3 linked regions of the Homo sapiens genome follow. The protein of the gene in region 1 purifies or fractionates together with the protein of each later gene. This does not show direct contact. Each region holds a gene or a part of one and is shown on either strand. Other genes may lie near its edges. The genes, in order: BAG2, HSF1 and DNAJB4.

What was found.
Region 2: the proteins of BAG2 (region 1) and HSF1 purify together in Homo sapiens (affinity purification with mass spectrometry; 3 studies listed by BioGRID and IntAct, with this or other methods). This does not show direct contact.
Region 3: the proteins of BAG2 (region 1) and DNAJB4 purify together in Homo sapiens (affinity purification with mass spectrometry; 4 studies listed by BioGRID and IntAct, with this or other methods). This does not show direct contact.

Annotation. Positions count from the first base shown.
Region 1 is NC_000006.12:57,182,160-57,185,988, forward strand, and holds part of BAG2 (BAG family molecular chaperone regulator 2), read left to right. Parts: intron 1-1,618; coding exon 1,619-2,031; 3' UTR 2,032-3,829. UniProt on the Homo sapiens protein: Co-chaperone for HSP70 and HSC70 chaperone proteins. Acts as a nucleotide-exchange factor (NEF) promoting the release of ADP from the HSP70 and HSC70 proteins thereby triggering client/substrate protein release.
Region 2 is NC_000008.11:144,294,388-144,298,216, reverse strand, and holds part of HSF1 (heat shock factor protein 1), read right to left. Parts: intron 1-3,829. UniProt on the Homo sapiens protein: Functions as a stress-inducible and DNA-binding transcription factor that plays a central role in the transcriptional activation of the heat shock response (HSR), leading to the expression of a large class of molecular chaperones, heat shock proteins (HSPs), that protect cells from cellular insult damage.
Region 3 is NC_000001.11:78,003,293-78,006,892, reverse strand, and holds the start of DNAJB4 (dnaJ homolog subfamily B member 4), read right to left. Parts: upstream 1,955-3,600; 5' UTR 1,783-1,954; coding exon 1,572-1,782; intron 1-1,571. UniProt on the Homo sapiens protein: Probable chaperone. Stimulates ATP hydrolysis and the folding of unfolded proteins mediated by HSPA1A/B (in vitro).

The sequences.
Region 1 (3,829 bases):
GAAGGGGCTCATCTTTTACACTCCTTTAAAGAGTTTATGATAAGTGTGGGTCAATTTTTGCTTGACTTTTGGTATGCGTACACCAGGCCACAGCATTTAATGTGAGCCACAGAGAGCAGCTGCAGCTGTCAGTTCATTACAGCAGCCACTTACTCAGAGATTTCTTCCAGCATGCTCTCTACCCCAAGCCCCTGGCTAGGAGAGATAGGAAAAAGCCTGCAAGCTCAGAAAAGCTGGCCCCAAGCAGTAAGGCCATGTGTTTTATCCCAGGTTCACAGTCCTAACTTCAGTTCCTCACAAGTTACTGGACTGCAAGAGATTAAAAAAGCAGAGGAAGAGGGTGAGAGAGTGGAAGCAGAGAAGTAGAGACCAAAAAAAAAAAAAAAAAAAAGATGAATTGAGGTACAACATAAAGAGAAGGGACAAAATGCAGAGAAAATGAGGAAACTTGTAGGACCAATAAAAGGCATGAATGTAAAAATGTGCTGTCATTTTCTTTTTTCTTTTTTTGAGATGGAGTTTTACTCGTCACCCAGGCTGGAGTGCAATGGCGCGATCTTGGCTCACTGCAACCTCTGCCTCCTGGGTTGAAGCGATTCTCCTGCCTCAGCCTCCCGAGTAGCTGGGATTACAGGCACGTGCCACCACGCCTGGCTAATTTTTATATTTTTAGTAAAGACAGGGTTTCACCATGTTGGCCAAGCTGGTCTCAAACTCCTGACCTCAGGTGATCCGCCTGCCTCAGCCTCCCAAAGTGCTGGGATTACAGGCATGTGACATCTGCCTAACCTGTGCTGTCATTTTCATGTGAAGAACATGAAATAGGAATAGGTCACTTCTGATTTTCTTTTATTGGCACTGGACTTCCTACTTGGGCTCCTTTGGTGCCACACAGGCCACATGGTACTGGGCCAAGTGGCTGGTGAGGTAAGTAAGCAACCTAAATCCAGATCAAAACTGTTACACATCTATAGGTAGGCCATGATCTAGTCTCTACGCTATCCTGCCCAAAGATCAATGAATTAGGAAGTTACAGAAGCAGGAGCTTGCTGACTTTCTCATATAAATAATGAAATGTTGATAGAGCTCCTCGTGCTGGCCAAGACTTTAGACCACTGTCCTGCTTCTATCTGGAGAAGGATGAAGTCAGTGCCTAGTATTGACGACAGAAGACAGCTTATCTTCTATCGTGGCTACATTTTCTCAACCAAAATTTGGGGCATTGTATTCTGATAAATGCACATGTCGTTCTGGAGAGATCTGGGACATCTGATCTCTGGAGCTCTACCCAGCATAAACCCTATATGTGCTTACTGCTCACAGTGTTAAGACTTGATCTCCATCCCAGTTACAAATGCATACCTACCCAAACTTTTGCAGACATGCCAATTTGAGAAGTCATCTGGTATCCCATATATGCAGATTGTCAGGAAGTGGTATTCTACAACCTCTTTCTGTAATCTAATACATTTCATCAGTTAATCTTACATGCTATAGTTTCAGCTTTTATCTCTAAAAAAATTTCATGGCAGAGGTAAAGAAAATAATAAATTTAGTCACAAACAAATGCCTTAATGTTTTTGACACAGATAAGTTTACATCTCATATTGATTTTTAGGAGAAAGAGAAGAATTAAATCTGACTGCAAACCGTTTGATGGGAAGAACTCTCACCGTTGAAGTGTCAGTAGAAACAATTAGAAACCCCCAGCAGCAAGAATCCCTAAAGCATGCCACAAGGATTATTGATGAGGTGGTCAATAAGTTTCTGGATGATTTGGGAAATGCCAAGAGTCATTTAATGTCGCTCTACAGTGCATGTTCATCTGAGGTGCCACATGGGCCAGTTGATCAGAAGTTTCAATCCATAGTAATTGGCTGTGCTCTTGAAGATCAGAAGAAAATTAAGAGAAGATTAGAGACTCTGCTTAGAAATATTGAAAACTCTGACAAGGCCATCAAGCTATTAGAGCATTCTAAAGGAGCTGGTTCCAAAACTCTGCAACAAAATGCTGAAAGCAGATTCAATTAGTCTTCAAACCTAAGAGCATTTACACAATACACAAGGTGTAAAAATGATAAAATACTATTTTAATTGATAACTAGTTCTTTGTTAGGTATAACCACTTAGTTGACACTGATAGTTGTTTCAGATGAGGAAAATATTCCATCAAGTATCTTCAGTTTTGTGAATAACAAAACTAGCAATATTTTAATTATCTATCTAGAGATTTTTTAGATTGAATTCTTGTCTTGTACTAGGATCTAGCATATTTCACTATTCTGTGGATGAATACATAGTTTGTGGGGAAAACAAACGTTCAGCTAGGGGCAAAAAGCATGACTGCTTTTTCCTGTCTGGCATGGAATCACGCAGTCACCTTGGGCATTTAGTTTACTAGAAATTCTTTACCTTAAGCAGCACACACATTTACTACACACACAGTGTTAACAAAGCACTGTGCTTAGAGGGTAAAAAGGAATCACAAAACAAGAATCTTTCCAAAGTTGTCTCATTCAGCAATGTTAAGGCATCTGTATCAAATTATTTTGGATGTAAAGATTCCTGTGTCTCATAATATGAATGTATTTTTTGATATACAAGAAACTGACATAAAATGTGAGAAAACCACCTATAATTTACCACTGTGAACAATTATATATCTATCTGCTTCATCTTTTCTCAAATGCATCAATTCTCTAAAATTCCTATATTGTAACTTGCCTTTTTTTAAAAAAGTTAGATGCTGATATAAAGTCTGCTTAATTGTCAACTTAATGAGCTCTATTTTGTGTAGTTATATCTTTATCCATTCCTCTTTTATGGACATTTAGGTTGTTTCCAACTTGTTGCTATTACTGCAACATATTTTTGTACACAGGACTTTTTCCTTCTTTCATTTTTGTTTTTCTCTGTATAAAGGCCCAGCAGTGAATTATATTGGGTCAAAGGATATAGACGTTTTCATGGCCTCACACATATTAAACTTTTTTTGTATAAAGGTTACAGCAATTTATACTTTTTTCAGTAATTAAAATATAGCTATTTCACTGAAATATTTCCAGCACTGAGCATTAATACCTAGTTTGCATTTTGTTTACTAAAAAGGTTGACCAGTGTGTTGATTCTTCTTTTATCTGATAAAGTGTGAAGCAACTAGAGAACACTTATTTGTTCAAAGTAACTAGTCCTATTGATATACAAAAACCACAACAACTTCCCTGGATACTATTTTGAAATGAACACATCAATTTTTATTTGAATGTAGGTATTCTTCACACTGAAAAACCAAATCAAGATCCAAACTGACTTTATGTATGTATATATCTCTCAATGCAAGCAATATCAAACTTCATTTTCTCTACAAAAATGCCAAGTTAGTCTCTTTATAAAAAGCAGTTACAATCTGAAGACATTCATGTTACTTCCTTTGCCAGCTCCAACTCTGCCTTATTTAAATCTTTGCATTTCATGGGAAACATTAATTCTATCTATGGCAGAGCCACTTGGTTTGTTAGCAGACTGATTTGCTGTCATCAGACTGTGAGATGATTTTTTGTGTGCATCATTTTTTTCTTGACCAGCTTTTTGAAAATTAAGAAATGGATAGTCATGTTTTCTTCAGGTTCTCAAGTATTGTCAGCATCCGTAAATCCCTTCCACTCTGGGAAATACTACTGCTCCCTGCTTCCCATGGCTTCCACATCAGTCCAGGACTTTTTCTACACAAATTATTCTGGCTCTGCCTCCTTGACCTTGGTATTCTTAGCATTATTTTTCCCATTTTTTTGCAATGGAGTTTTTAATGGAGGTCATTGATTTCTGATCA
Region 2 (3,829 bases), on another chromosome or scaffold:
ATGAATTTCACAGGGTCTGCTGGTGAACCCATCAGAGAACCCAGTGTCTCTCTCATCTTCCTGCCTCAGTGGAACAAGGTCCCTCCTCTGCTGACCACAGGCACCTCTTGGAGGAGTCACCGGTCATAACTGGATATCACGAAAACCTGCCACTGGAAATGGGAGGCCCCTGGCTGGTGCGAGATGCCACACGCTGAGAAGTGTAGGTGTCAGCAAACCCCGCAGCTTGCAGTAAACTTGGAGCCTGTGGCCTCATTTTCTGCAGCACTGTGAAGGACCTGAAATGTGTGTGAGATCCTGCCTGTAGGGACACCTTACATAGAAAGTGTCTGTGTCTCTGAGTATCTTCTCAAAGGGCTCCCTGGCCCAAAACGTGAACAGTGCCGTATTCTACAAGGTGGCCCCACAGCCCAGGCCACAAGCCTCTTGTTCCAGCCTCCTGCCAAGTCAAAGCTGTATCTGCTGACCGGTGATCTGGGCTCCTGGGCTCGGCTGGCCGGCTGTTCCCTCTCCGGGTCCCGGGAGTATAGGCTTTAGGAGCAAAGGGAGCGCGTGTGTGAGTAGCTGTGGCCCACGTGTGGGGAGCAGGGACCACCGGAGTCAGGGCATGGAAGCAGTGAGGCAGGCAGGAAGCGCGAGCAGGTGCAGACAAAGTGGCTCACTTTGTGGCCCCGTTCCCTGGTCTGGTTCTGTCCACATCTGAGCCACCCGCACCTTTCTCATAAACACTCTTCTTGTTTCCGCTCTGGAGGAGCTTCCAGCGTGTTCTCGCCACACAAGGACCAAGAGCAGCACAATCGCCCTCATCTCTCATCACATCTCGTCACTGGCTGCCGTGCACAAGTGTGGTGGCTACTGCTGCTCACCATGGCCCACAGGGTCACAGGGAGGAGGCTGAGGCAGCAGCAGCCCTTGCTGCCAGGTGCCTTGAGACATTTGGGACCACCTCCTTTCCTTAGACAGCCTCCCCTCCACCTGCCAGACCTTGAGGAGACCCTGGAGCCAACAGCCCTCAATATACCCGATGGGAGCTGCTTGCTTCCTCTGGGAAGGCACTGTGAGCCCCACCGACCCCTCTCCAGCTCGCCCTGCACACAGGCTGACTCCTCCAAAACTGAGAGACTTTCAGGGCCAGGCTGTCCATCCCTGGTCCCTCAATAAAGGACTGAGCAAACACTAGCCTGTGGAGTTGGGTGGGCATGGGGCACCGGAGGCATCTGCCTCCCCCCAGGAGGCCACTGCAGCTCAGCCCTTCTGTGCCCTGGGCCCCTCCTCACCGCACCCCCCCCACCACACCATCCGGGGCAGAGGAAACACAGGAGGCTACAGCACAGAGCCTTTTTAATTTTTTCTGTGCTATGCACAGAAGCTGTATGAGGACAGATGTGTGCCTTCTTTTTTTTTTTTTTTGAGATGGAGTCCCGCTCTGTCACCCAGGCTGGAGTGCAATGGCGCGATCTCAGCTCACTGCAAGCCCCGCCTCCTGGGTTCACGCCGTTCTCCTGCCTCAGCCTCGCAAGTAGCTGGGACTACAGGCACCCACCACCACGTCCAGCTAGTTTTTTGTATTTTTTAATATAGACGGGGTTTCACCATGTTAGCCAGGATGGTCTCAATCTCCTGACCTCCTGATCTCGTGATCCGCCCACCTCAGCCTCCCAAAGTGCTGGGATTACAGGCGTGAGCCACCACGACCAGCCCCAGCTGTGTGCCTTCTTATGGCCACACCAGGAGGCACTATGGTCCGGGCACACATCAGGCCCTCCAGACCCTGCAGCACTTCTCACAGCTGCTGCTGTGGGGCCTCCAGCATCTTGGGCCAAATACCAGATCTTCCAGGGTGGGGCCAGTGGGCCTGCTGGGTCTTGGCGGCTCTCAGAACCAGGGAAGCAGGGGTGGCCCTGCCTGCCGTGGGAGCTCCGGACACGATCTGTGACCAGGGTCTGAGTGACTGAGCGTGGCCAGGTCGGCTCTGCTTCTGCAACTCCTCGTGTGCTTATGAGTGGACGCCCTGCCCTGCCTTACTTCAGGGACCCCTCAGGCCCTGCCCCCTGCCTCACTGCAGGGACCACTCTGCTCCCAATTGTCCACCCAGAGACCCTCCACAGCGGCCACCTGACCACTGGCTTTCAATGGAACTCTCTCCCGCGATAGGCCGAGGGCCTTGGTGACCTCCAGCTCACTCAGTCTCAGGGAGCCCCAGGGTTTCAGCACATCCTTCTAGAGTCTTTCCAGCTGCACCCATGAGGCTGGGGCCAGGTGAAGACAGAGAAGCATCCAGGAGCCCACATCTAAGGAGGCCCCCACTCCCAGCGCCATCCGAATGCAGGTAGGTCTTAAAAAGGAATGCCTCAGGGCCAGGCGCGGTGGCTCAAGCCTGTAATCCCAGCACTTCGGGAGGCTGAGATGGGAGGATGGCTTGAGCCCGTGAGTTCCAGACTAGCTTGGGCAATACGGCGAGACCCTGTCTCTACTAAAACCTTAAAAAGAAAAAAAAAAAAAAGCCAGGTCTGGTGGTGCAAGCCTGTAGTCCCAGTGACTCAGCTGAGGTGACTGGATCACTTGAGCCTGGGAGGCAGAGGCTGCAGCGAGCTGCAATCATAGCCCTGCACTCCAGCCTGGGCAACAGAGCGAGACCTTATCTAAAAAACAAAAAGTGCTTCCTTAAATTTTGCACCCAGGTGCCCCCTCTGGCCTCACCCTGATCCTGAGGCCTCCGTCTACCTGGGTTCGTTCTAACCTGCGTGACCATCATTCTAGCATTTGTCTGGCACAGGTCATGTGGCTGTGCCTTGTTCTCAGGCTCCTCAGCCAGCTGGGTGGCTCCTGGGGCTGTAATCTCACCATCTCAGATGTCGAGATTACTTTTCATACTTCCTTATCTTGTTAATAAAGATGGGACAAAATCATAGCTTGTAAAAAACTGGGATGATGGTGAACCCAGTTCTGAGGCTTCACTTTCTGCTTTTGTTTGGTTCTCCATGCTGTCAAATTCTCTGAAGAGGCTGTTGCCCTCCTGAGTCAGCTGCAGCCCAGCAAGGCCCTAGAAGAGCCTCTGCTGGTGGACAGAGGAGCTGCTGCATGCAGACGAGGAAGCTGGGCTGAGGGCCGGCACCAGGGCACGGGGCAGGGAGGCTGCGGGTCCCGGGTCTCATGGGTCTCAGTTCTATGGAGGTGCCTGTCAGTCCAGGTATTCAGTCCCCCAACCCCGTCTTTGGGTCTCAGTGGTACTGGATCCAGGTGTACCTTTGGGAGAAGCTGTTGAGAAGCTGGCTGAGGGAGGACCACCCACGTGCACGCCCATGCTCTTATGTGGATCCCCGGGATCATAACCTTGTGGCTGACACATTTCCTCTCCAAGGCTGTGCTGTCCTCCACGACTTGCTGGGTCCCCTCAAGGCCCTTGCCTGTGTGGGTGGGGTGCTCATGGGAATGAGGGTCTTGGGAGGGGGGGGTGGGAAATCAAACAACACAGGGATGGGGTAGCTGCCACAGTCCCCACCAATGGGGTCTCCTGGGCAGTGACCCGGCATTCTGCCTCCAGTGGCTGCAGTGGGAGTCCTGATCTCAGGCCAGGGAGGGGACGTGCAATGGTGGTCCAGACCTGGTCCCATTCCTGGCCAGGCTCAGTAAAGTTACTGGCCAGTTTCTGGGCCTCGGTCTCCCCCAGGTTATTCAGCCTTGAGAGTTAGTCACCATGCCTGTGATTCTGCCTCATCTTCTTGTGTCAAATAGGGAGGGTTTTTCTTGGCAGAATGGTGGTAAGACTCTGAGCCAGAAGGAGACTCTCCCAGAGAAGGCAGCAGAGAGCAAGAGCACCAGGGCCTTC
Region 3 (3,600 bases), on another chromosome or scaffold:
TTCACAGGAATTCACAGTGTCATTCCATGTTTGTGAATTTCTTTACAAAATTACAAAATTACTCCTTTAGAAATAGTAGTACATTATTGGTAGTATCTCAGAATCCTGCTTAGCTTTTGAGATAAACCAAGTCATGATATTTTGGGTAATATGGCCATAGGTATCATGCAAGATTGAACTGCCCAGTATTTGCCTTTTTCAATATTTACTTTGTAAGAACCTGACACTGTAGGTCCTCACCACACCAAAACCTGCAACATAAACTTCAATTTTGGGCAACTCATAGACCAAAAAAGCTAAACAAAACAAAAAGGAAAAAACCCTCTATATACAATCACCCTGCTTGTCTACATTTAATTTGTTTCATTCAAAATAAGCAGTCACTGCTTGACTATATTTTAAGGATATATTTCTAATTAGGAAAATTTGATGTTAAATGTAATAAAGGAATCAAAGGGATAACAAGTTTTCATAGCTACAGTGATTTGAAAGCCAGTATTTTGGGAGAAAAACTAATAATAAAATAACTTAGTCCTGATGTTAAAAGTTGAAAATCCCCAAAACAGTACAAGTTAAAGTTTTTTGTGTTATCAATTAGCAATTTAAAATAGTCTTACTTCATAGCCCCGTTTATATGGAAGTGATGGACAAACCTGATTTAAAATGCAGAATGAGAAAAGGATAATCTGAAATTATCCTCCTTTACTGTGCTCACTAGTTTTTGATCTCACAATGCAAAAAACAAAAGTATGGCAGGGAGAGGAAAGGGAAGTTGTCATGTTTTTCTCTATACCTAGATAGTAAAATTTCTAAATAAATAATGTTATCTAAAAGTAAATCAGTAATTATTCTAACTAGGTGGCCATTTTAGGTCAAAAATTGTATTTCTGAGATTTCATTTTCTTGGCACAAAATTATTGTTTACAATTAAGCTAAAAACTTGTTCTGGTATTTTATGACATCAGGAAAATTCTTTCCTCTCCAGGCAGAATGCCAAAAACAACTAGAAGCTAAATGCCTGCGCCTTCTGCTTCTGAGAGTCACAACTCTGTCTTGTTCAGTCTAAACTAGCCTTGCTATAAGAAAGGCAAAAAACTACTTTTTGTTTTTGTGAATAAGCTATAAACTACTCAGAATCTGAAATGCCAATCTTAAGGTTTTAAATGACTAAAGACTCTTTATTGGTTCTGGCAGAAAATTCATTAGAAAACGAAACAGGTTTCATAAGACTTTTGACACAATTTACTAATAGGTATGGGAATTCAAGGTTTATTTTAAAATATACATTGTTAACATTGTAAGTCTAATGATAAAATATGTATAATACAAAATGCTAAAATAAAAAAGGCAAACAAGGACATTTCATTCATGGCTCTGCAATACTCATTCATATGATCAGAGATGAAACCTTGTTATTATACATTTGTCCTTCTACTTTTGATATGACTGAGAATCCAATTTAAGGATAACCTTAACAAGCTGAGAGAGAGGGGAAAAAGGCTGGCAGAGAGAGAGAAAAAAAAAAAAGAGACAGAGCTGAAGAGACAGAAAGATATACAGAGAATACTTACCTTCCTCCCCAAACTGATCATATATTTCTCTCTTTTTAGGATCACTCAATACTTCATAAGCTTCTGCGACCTCTTTAAATTTTTCCTCTGCCTGAGGAGATTTGTTCTTGTCCGGATGAAATTTGAGGGCTTGTTTTCGGTAAGCCTTTTTAATATCTTCATCTGAAGCTCCTTTCTCAATTCCCAAAATGCAATAATAGTCTTTCCCCATTTCGAATGCCTTGAAATTAACTTAGATTTCCCTTTGTAAAAGAAAACAGCGTCCCCAGTCTTAGCAACAGATTCTAAGAAAAATAAACCAAGCTGGGTATTTTAAAAGTTAATCAGCAATTCAGCTAGCTGTCTTAAGGCAGCAAGCAGACAGCGTCTCTGTATTCAATCCTTCCCCAACGGCTCACTTACAGATAAATATACACTACACAGGAGACAGCCTCCTTCTAGATCCTCCCATTTTCACTACGTGTCTCTGTACTTTCTAGAACAGCAAATGCTACAGGACGTCACTTTCCCAGCTGCCTCTAGTCAAAGTACTGAGCTATGTTTTCTCCTCCTCCACGATTAACTATTCATTTTCCGACTAGCTCTACCGTCTTTATTTCCTAATTAAACAGGACAAATGGGTTAACATGCCAATATTTCAACACAGAATGTCACAACTATATATTTATGTACTCCATACTAGGTGAAAATCATCACAGTCATTAAACACCCTATGTTAAAAGAAGTTAAAGTTAATATACAGATAAAAGGAACGACAATTCTACTTTAGGGATTTTTTAATTTTAAGCTATTTGTCTGTTAAGTATATAATACCAAAACGCAGGTTGTTTAAATTAGGATTTCCAAGTAATTTATGTCGTCTTCAAAATTCCTGGGGTCTATCAATCAGAAACGCCAGAAAGTTTGTGTACTAGTTTCACATTGTTAAGGGAGTATCTATAATAAAATTCAAATGCGTTATTTTAAAATAAGTAAAGGACTTAAACATGATTTTAGCTAACTAGTTATTTCTAGTATACATGAGTTCATAGTTCTGGCAAACAAATACTTATTTTTGAAATTTTAGTATCTGAACTTAGTTACTTCAACTAAACTAAAACTGAATGAGGTCCCTGCCACCCCTCAACCCCCGTCCCCTGCAGCCGCCCCACAGGATCCCTATTTAAAGAACTGTGGTGCTGCAGGAAAGCTAGAACAAAGTATCAGGTTACAGACAGTACATACTCATGTTCCTTACAAGACTTAACTGCAACTGCATCAATGTAAAATTTGGATATGCCACTTAAGGGGCAGTAATATGAGAAATATTTTTTCTTTCAAAAACACATTTCCCTAATTATAAATATATATTCATTGTTGGAGATTTTGGAAAACGCAGAAAAAAGTTTTTAAAAATCTCCCTATAATATCATTTTAGGTAATCCCTGTTAAATATTACTGTATTTACTTCTAATTCTGTTTTCTATAAATCTTCATGGTTATTTGCTGTAGTTTTATAATTTTTTGTTAACAAAGTTAGATCATAGCATTTATATACCCTTTTGATGCCTGCTTTTGAAAGTATAACATATTTCAGGTATTTATGAGACATTTTCTATGTATATAACTCATCTTTTATCTCCTGTATGGTTTTCTCATCTTTTCAAAAATGTTCCCATTTCTATTAGAGAGATAAATAAGAAAAGTCAGAAGAATTGCACACAGTCCAAATAAAATGTTAGAAAACCTTTATGAGGAAAAGAAAATGTACATATATGTTTAGAATATAATAAAGGGTAATAATCATGTGTTAACCTTTAAAGAAATGAGAACGCCTACTCTATATGCCAAGCAATGATGATTCAGCAATTCTTTCTGAATGTTCATCTTTGTGCATTTTGACAGCTACGATTTTCTACTCTTCAAAATTCTCTACTTTAACAACACCATGACATTAGAAATGTATAACATTGATCTAGCCTACCTGTAGGTTACAGAGGTTTGTCAGCTATTTATCAATTTTTTTAGCCTCACCAAGAAATAATATCAA